Regions from separate parts of the Homo sapiens genome. Here all the other regions are linked to region 1. Evidence: fine-mapped expression QTL. A gene starts in region 1. Each other region holds a variant in brackets. All regions are shown on one strand. Distances are between the middles of the regions. Region 1 holds the start of MICAL1 (microtubule associated monooxygenase, calponin and LIM domain containing 1). Region 2 has its middle 49 kb from the start of CD164. Region 3 overlaps AK9 (adenylate kinase 9).

What was found.
Region 2: its variant is fine-mapped to the expression of MICAL1 in whole blood (TOPMed, PIP 0.93).
Region 3: its variant is fine-mapped to the expression of MICAL1 in Th17 cells (Schmiedel 2018, PIP 0.95).

Annotation. Positions count from the first base shown.
Region 1 is chr6:109,454,531-109,457,030 of GRCh38, forward strand. It overlaps MICAL1 (microtubule associated monooxygenase, calponin and LIM domain containing 1), which reads right to left and starts at 1,242. Exons shown (of 25, transcript NM_022765.4): 1 at 1,189-1,242. RefSeq lists enhancers at 114-163, 246-754 and silencers at 314-653, 1,014-1,863.
Region 2 is chr6:109,332,325-109,335,174 of GRCh38, forward strand. It overlaps the pseudogene CCDC162P. Among named protein-coding and RNA genes, the nearest start is that of CD164, 49 kb to the right of the region's middle. The variant C/A (reference allele first, on the strand shown) is at 1,645.
Region 3 is chr6:109,498,814-109,501,663 of GRCh38, forward strand. It overlaps AK9 (adenylate kinase 9), which reads right to left. Exons shown (of 41, transcript NM_001145128.3): 36 at 231-427. All of the region lies in intron 3 of ZBTB24-DT (ZBTB24 divergent transcript), which reads left to right. Among named protein-coding and RNA genes, the nearest start is that of ZBTB24-DT, 17 kb to the left of the region's middle. The variant T/TACAC (reference allele first, on the strand shown) is at 1,221.

The sequences.
Region 1 (2,500 bases):
AAGCCCTGGGGTAGGAATTCTTAGCCTGCCTTCCTTAGGCCTTGGAATCAGGGTGTGCGGGGATTTCTTAGATGTGGAGAGGACAGAGCTGCCTTTGCATGCAACACAGGGACAGATCTGATACCCACAACCCCAGCTGCTGAGCATACATCCTGCCCCATCTCCCTCCAAGCGTCCCTGTGCCGGCGCCCCTTGATGGCCTCAGTGCCACGCTGTGTCTGAGAAGTGTCTCATGGCAAGGGCAAAGTTTTCCTCAGCACTCGTGCTTGCCTCCTGACAGAGAAACAGCCTCTGTCCGCGTAGGTTCCACTTCCCTCCACCAAACTGCCTCAACAAACGGCGGGAGGATGTTGCGACTGACTGGGGAACGGAGGCCTGGGTCTATTTCTGACGCACTGTGGTCAAAACACTTCCTCTGTGAATGTGCCCTACTCCAGGGGGCCGTGGGTAGGGCTGGGGGTCGACCGCAGCCGGGTGCGCCCCTCCCAGGTTCCCCCCTCCCTGATCGACCCCTACCCCGCCCCGCCCCCTGTGCGCCCGGGCGCGCTCTCCCAGGAATCTCCGGAGACAAAGCCTCGCTTTGTCGCCCCCTCCCACGCCACCTGAAGGGTGCCCGAGGGGGTTTCTCACGCGGGGCCCAGAAGGTATCAGAGGGTATGGAGGAGGCGGGTGTCCACGGCAGCGTTAGGGAGGGTGAATGGCAGCAGTGGGGGCAGGTCCCTGAGGCTCAGGCCCCTCCACCATCCAGCTGCCCCTCCGTTCCCAGCCCGCCGCGCCGAGACAGGAGATGAAAGCCTCCCGCTGCGGGTGGCCCGGACGAGGGCAGACGGAATCTCATGACGGAAGGGCAAAGATCTTTCTTGGGGGTGGAGGGTGGAAGGAGGAAGACCTCGGCGAAAGGGGAGAAAGGAGCGACCCAGCCTGGAAACGCCAGGACAAAGGCTGTGAGAGGGGTGGAGCGGTCTGAAAGGATGGAGAGGGAGCTGGACCGCGGGCGGCAGCGGTGGGGGTCCCCGACACTGGACGGCAAAGTCCGGACGCGGCGTGAGCAGGGCTGGGCTGAGGGAAGACCTGCCTGACCTGCCAGGCGTGGTTCCCGAGCGACCGCAGCTGCGTTTCCCCGGAAGCGCACCCCACCTCACCCCACCCGGCCGCGGGGCTCGCAGCCGGCTCCGCTGGACGACTTACCGGCGGCTCCGAAGCCGGGAGGGGCCGCTTCCTGTTGGGCTGGCAACCAGGTCTGAGCGGGTGGGAGGGCGGGGGCGGGGGCGGGGGCGGAAACGCCGAGATCGGGCGGGGATGCTGGGATGCGGGGCGGCCCGGGGCGTGCGCCTGGAGTCGCGCGGAGTGTGGGCTTCCGCGAGGGGCGCGGGGCGCCGCCCGGGCTTTATTCGCGACTCATTAGCATCTCATTACTTCTGGATCCCTCTACCGCCTCCAGCGGGGACAGTCTTGGGCCCGCCCATGCCTGCAGGGTGGCGCCCGAGGGCGTGGCGCTGCGGACACCCCGTTCCGCTCTGGGGCCTCTGGGTGGGTCTGGCCTGTTGGGGGCTGAGGAGCTCGAGGGTCAGGGCGCCCAGTGCTGGACCGCGCACCCTCGGCCTGGGCTCCTTGCCGGTGCTTGCGCGTGCAAGGCTAGCTCTTTCCCCGCCGCAAGGCGAGGACCACCCGCCCCCGCCGCGGTCCCAGGTCCGCTGGCAGCCTCCCAGCGCCGGGCCGAGAGGGCGCTCAGGCTCCTCAAGAGGTTTGGAAAAGCCGGCGGGTCCGAGGGTGGCGCCGGAACGTCTGCGCTCTCCTCCGGTCTCCCACCTGGAGATCCACGGCCCGGGCGCCCCAGGATGGATCCAAGCGCAGAGTGCGCCTCCTGTGACAGAGGTCGACCCCTAAGCCCGGGCCGAGGGCAAAGGGCGCGGATTAAAGTCCTGGAAACTCAGCAATCTGCAGCTTCCAAATGGATATGAGAAGTGAGAGGGAAGGGGATGGCGGGGCGGGTTAGACCACCACTAAGAGATGGGGAATGGGAGGGGTGTGTGGAAGAGAGACCAAGTCTTCAAAGAATGCCTTAGAGTGAGGACCCACGGGACTGTCTGCTGAAAAGGGCTGGAGAGGCCTTTGGGATCAGCTTCGTCGTATTCCCGATAAGGAACAGCGCCTAAAGTGAAGGGACGCGTCCAGTCTTTTAGCTAGTTAATATTAAAAAACATCGTCTCATTTATTGACCGTCATCCTATGAGTATTACCTCAACATCAGTGCTTGCAACAGTCCCATTTTACCAAAAAGGAAACTGAGTCACAGATGTTCTGTGATCTGCACACAGCAAGTGGCAGAGCTGTTTGGGGGCCCAGGTCTGTCGGCTCCACCACCCCAGGGTTGACCCAAAATGACGCATGAAAGGCTGGCATTATAAGATGCTGTTTCTTGTTTAGACGAAGTGATACTGTTACACTGGAAGCACTAATAAAACCCAGGTATAAATAAGAGGGTTGCTGTCCTTGAGAT
Region 2 (2,850 bases), 120 kb before region 1:
GGGCTGCTGGGAGCCTGAGAGCCTCCCTGCACCCCTCCCTCACTGGCCACTCACTGCTTCCTGTCTGCCCCTCCTCAGACATGCTCCCTGTCCCATGTCCCCTGCAGGTACTCTGCCTGCACCCTTCTCCCTCTCCCTGCTTCCAGCCTCTCTCCCCTTGAGCTGTGCTTTCAGCTCAACCTCTTGAGGCCTCAGTAGAGCTCTGAGAGAAGGAAGCAATAGAACTTCTATGGCCTCTGGAGATGCTCAAGGAGAGTCCTACCTTTCCCACCTCTTTGGTGTTATACAGACTCACCACAGACTCCTCCTGCTGGCCAGGTAAAACATCATGTTGGCTCAGAGGGCATGGCAGAGGGCCACTGTGGTCCAGTTGTGCGTTTCTGTGGGTTTGGGATCCTATATCTGCAGAGGCTATGGTGGCATTACTATGAGAAGTGTTTGCCCTGCATAAGAGCTGTTGGATGCCCTGTTGGCACACCCATGTCTGGGCACTCATACCCAGGATAGTAAAGACTGAGTTGCTGTGGCTGGCTCAGAGCACTAGGCCCAGAAGAGGTCACTGGCCACACCTTGCTGAACTCCAGTAGGGTCTTGTGACTTCTCATGGCTGCAGGCTTTCATTACAGTCAAACCAGGAAGTGCTTCCTTTGTCATGACCAAACCCGTGTAGCCTTGCCCTTTCACCAGGAGGTCAAGGTCCAGGGGTAGAATCTTGAGTTCTCTTTGCCTTGTGTCAGCAACTAAACCATGGCTGTCCTGGTGCTTGCTCTCCAGAGACTGGGTGGGGCAAGAAGGGTAACGGGCAGGTCATCCTGCCCTCACCCCACCCACTAATGCAGCCCCTTGAGGAGGGCCCTAGAGTGTGAGTGGGAGACACTGAGTTCCTGCCCCTCACTGCCCCATCCACTGCTCATTAAATGCAGCGTGAGCAGAGGTTTCCATCTGCTGCTTTATTGCCCGTATCTTGATCATATCCTGCCAAGCTGATATAGTTGATGACTTTTTAAAAAGCTCAACTATCTTTAGATTACTATATGCATTTTATTTTTACATATATTTACATAATTATTTTAGTTATATACATTTTATGATTATATTGTAGTAGAAAATATACTCATAATCTTAGTGCTCATTGATAACCATTATTATTATTATTATTATTTTTTTTTTTTAAGAGACAGGTCACCCAGGCTGGAGTGCAGTGGCCTGATCATACCTCACTGCAGCTTCAAACTCCTGGGCTCAAGTGCTCCTCCAACCTCAGCCTCCTGAAGCTAGGACTACAGGCACACACCACCATGCCCAGCTAGTTTTTGTATTTCTTTTTTGTAAAGATGGGGTCTCACTTTGTTGGCCAGGCTGATCTCAAACTCCTGGCCTCAAGCAATCCCTCCTTGGCCTCCCAAAGTGCTGGGATTACAGATGTGAGCCACAGCACCTAGCCTCCACTATTATTATTTTGACATATTTTCTTCCAAACTTTATTTATAACACTTTTCTACTCATGCACTTTGATATAGGTTGGCTGTGTCCCCACCCAAACCTCACCTTGAATTGTAACTCCCACAATTCCCACATGTTGTGGGAGGAACCCAGTGGGAGGTGATTGAATCATGGGGGTGGGTATTTACTGCACTGTTCTTA[C/A]CATAGTGAATGAGGCTCACAAGATTTGATGGTTTTAAAAACAGGAGTTTCCCTGCAAAAGCTCTCTTTCTTTGCTGCCATCTGTGTAAGACGTGACTTGCTCCTCCTTGCCTTTCACCATGATTGTGAGGCCTCCCCAGCCATGTTGAACTATAAGTCCATTAAACCTCTTTCTTTTGTAAATTGCCCATTCTCAGGTATGTCTTTTTCAGCAGTGTGAAAATGGACTAATACACACTTTTTTTTTTTTTACAAAATAAGATTATTCTGCATGACCTTTTTTTATAGCATGCTTTTTTGTTCACTTGACAATATGTTATAAAGATCTTTCCTCATCAATAAACATATGTCCATTTATGGTGGCCATTCAGTATTTCGTCATGTCTATGAGCCAGATGGATTCAACTCATTTCCATTGTTAGGCATTTTAGGTCGTTTCCATTTTTCTTTTCTATTGGAAAAAATATAAAGACATATGTAAAATATGTAAAAATATAAAAACATACATAAACATCTGTTTACGTATGTTTTTGTGGATAACTTTTATTCCCTAAATTCCTAGAAGAGGAGCTACTAAGTCAAAAGTCACAAGCATGTAAAATCTTGTCATATATTCTGTCAGCTTGCCTCCAAAATAGATTCTGTCTCCTCTCCCCAGCTGCAGCGAGTGAGCCACTGTCCTTACTCTCCTCCATCAGGGCTCGTCTTACTGCTATTTGCCATCTCTGCTAGTTTGCCTCAATAACTTACCTTGGCCAAGCCCATGGTAGGCTTTCACTGGAGGTCAGTGGAGCACTGGGGTTGCAATGATAGGACAGTGCCCTGGGCCTTCCAGGACAAGCAAATCAGAGCCAGGAGGATCCCCTAGGCTCAAAGGACAGGCTGGCTTCAATGGTAGATGGCCAGGGAGCAGGAGCCGGCCTGACCCCAGAAGTGTCACAGATAAAACTCACGTTACAGTGTAGGCTGGGTCTTAGACTTGGCCCCATAAACTTTCTCACCCCCCATCCCTGCAGATAGATACACACACACACACACACACACACACACTCATTGATGCACAGAGGGACAAACACACTCGCATAGATATGCAGGTCCTAGTTAGGTAGGTCTGTCCTACCTTCCAAATATTGGCTCCCATTTCTCTCCAGAACCTAAATCTAAGCCTGCCTTGGAAGGTTGGGCTGTTCCTTAATTGCCACCTAT
Region 3 (2,850 bases), 44 kb after region 1:
TAGGCCAACAGCCAATTAATGACCCTGGACTCCTGCAATGTTTCAAATTATATCCTGGGATGCAGTTTTGGAACTCACTGCTGAGTTGCTTCACTGGTCCCAGAGTCACAAGTTCCAGTAATGGGGCTCCTAGTCCCAAGTTTCTGGGTGCCTATCCCTTCCTATTGATTGATTCCAAGATAAGACATTTTCTTTCTTTAGTAAATATTTGGAGTTAGGAACAAACTTACATTCAGTTTTTCCTGAGAACTCATTTTATAGTAGTGCCCCCTGAACTCTGCTGCAAATTCCAAGGAGTCAGTTGCAGAGCAATCAAATAATTCCTGGGATTCTGCCAGGCTGACAGGGCAGAACTGTTCAAATTCTCCCAGGCGAGAAAGCAGCTCTTGAGGTGTGATACATAACTTGTCAATGCAGGCAGCTTTTCCTATTATTAACATATTAACTATTATCATGTATATATTTTTCATAGAGAACGCAATGATTTTAGAAATTAAAATAATTTTAATTACACAGCACTATACATACACATTATAAAATTCCAAACAATAGAGTAAAAAGTAAAAGTTACTATTCACATCTCCATTGTTTCAATCCAATACTTAACCTGAGAGGTAATCATCACTGTTGGATTTGTATCTTTTTCAGTCTTTTTTCTATACCTTCACATACATACTTTTTTGCATATAGTATGCTTGTGCCACTATACTATAAACATTATTCTGCAACTTGCTTTTATCAGTCAGTTATGGTCTTTGACCTCTTTTCATATAAGCTTATATAATTTACCTAATTTTTTTTTTTGAGATGGAGTCTCGCTCTGTCACCCAGGCTGGAGTGCAGTGGCGTAGCTCGATCTCAGTTCACTGCAGCCTCCCAGGTTCAAGTGATTCTTGTGCCTCAGCCTCCCAAGTAGCTAGGATTACAGATGTGTACCATCACAGACGGCTAATTTTTTGTACTTTTAGTAGAGACAGGGTTTTGCCATGCTGGCCAGGTTGGTCTCGAATTCCTGGCCTCAGGTGATCCACCCACCTCGGCCTCCCAAAGTGTTGGGATTACAGGCATGAGCCTTCCGTGCCTGGCCAATTTACCTAATTCTTTTTAATCGATGCATAGTATTCCACTGTATAAACATACATGTAGTTTACTCAACCATTTATCTATTGGTGAATGTTTTGGCCGTTTTAGTTCTTAGCTATTATAGACTATATATATGA[T/TACAC]ACACACACACACACACACACACACACACACACACACACAATTTATACCTGTGTATACCCGCACATTTATAAACTTGCTACATTTAAAAAAAACCTATGGGCTAGATTTCAGGAAGTGCAAATAGTTTGTTGACATGATGTTACTCACACAAAGTTCTCCCTGTGCCCAGATCCCACCCAAGAGAAGGAAAACAAACATTTATCCAAAAGTGATTGGCTTTATTCTAAAGAGTAGATTTTAAAAAGAAAGTGCCCAAGTTCCTTTAATGAACAAGATTAAGAGTTTTCTCTCTATGCTTACCCAGAACAAAAATGTAAGTACACACATAAAAAAGAGAGTTTTCTCTCTAATACTCCACTGGAATGGGGACTTCAAAGCAATATAAGATGTTATAGAAAATAAAATTACTTTTTAAATACATTTTAGTTATAATGAGTGGACTTATTATAGCCAGTACGTTTTGTTAGTTGTCGTTTTACCAAGGCAAAGTTTTACCTTTTTAAAAGATTATGCCTAGGAAGGTCCTAAATTAACCATAAAATTATGAAGCAAAAATCATAGTTTGTTTTTTGTTTGTTAGGATAGAAATGATCTCATCTGCAATGTACTATTACAGCACTGTAATCCCTTATCTAAGACCCTTGGGGCCAGAAATGTTGGATAATTCAGAATATTTTAGATTTTGGAAACGCATCACACTCAGCCAGGTGTGGTGGCTCACGCCTGTAATCGCAGCACTTTGGGAGGCTGAGGTGGGTAGATCGCTTGAGTCCAGGAGTTTAAGACCAGCTTGGGCAACATGGCGAGACCCTGTCTCTACAAAAAATACAAAAATTAGCCCTCTGTGGTGGCACATGCCTGTAGTCCCTGCTACTTGAGAGGCTGAAGTGGGAGGAACACTTGAGCTTGGGAGGTGGAGGCTGCAGTAAGCCACTGCACTCCAGGCTGGGCAACAGAGTGAGACTCTCAAACAAACAAACAAACAAAATGAAAGAAAAGAAATACATCACACCCTCACAGTGTCTGGAGAAGCACCCTGTAATCGATAAGATGAAATTTCTGCAACCAAATAGGTTGACCCTTCCCCACTTACTGGGTTTCATAAAAAGACTGTAAATAGCCATATGTCAGCTCATGTGAAGTTTTGCCCTCAAATGATTTATAACTAAACTTGATATTTTTAGAGGTTTTTGGATTTTGGAATCACAGGCCAGAGGTGTCATGTCACTTGATTGCCTCACTGATCTGCCTGCCTGTACTGGGGAGGAGGGTGTGGGGGTCCAGGAGATGATGTCCCCTGATACCAACTACCATTTCCACTCTTCAAAAGGCCACATGTAATCCTGAAAAGGAGATGGTTGGGAAACCGTGCCCAAAGAGGTTTCCATTATGCAATCTCTCCACAATCCTGCTTTTAAACAGGGAGTAGGAGAGGGGGAAAGGAACATACACAACATGAAGGGATCTTTATTAACTGGCATTCCTTTAAGCAATCACAGCCCTCCTTCAATAAGGCAGGCATTTAAAACCATTGCTTATTGGCTCTCATCCTCTATTCATCTCTTGCAGGCAAAGAATCATCAGTGTGGCATCAGCACTACTCCTAACAAGGTCTTTAGGACATAAACT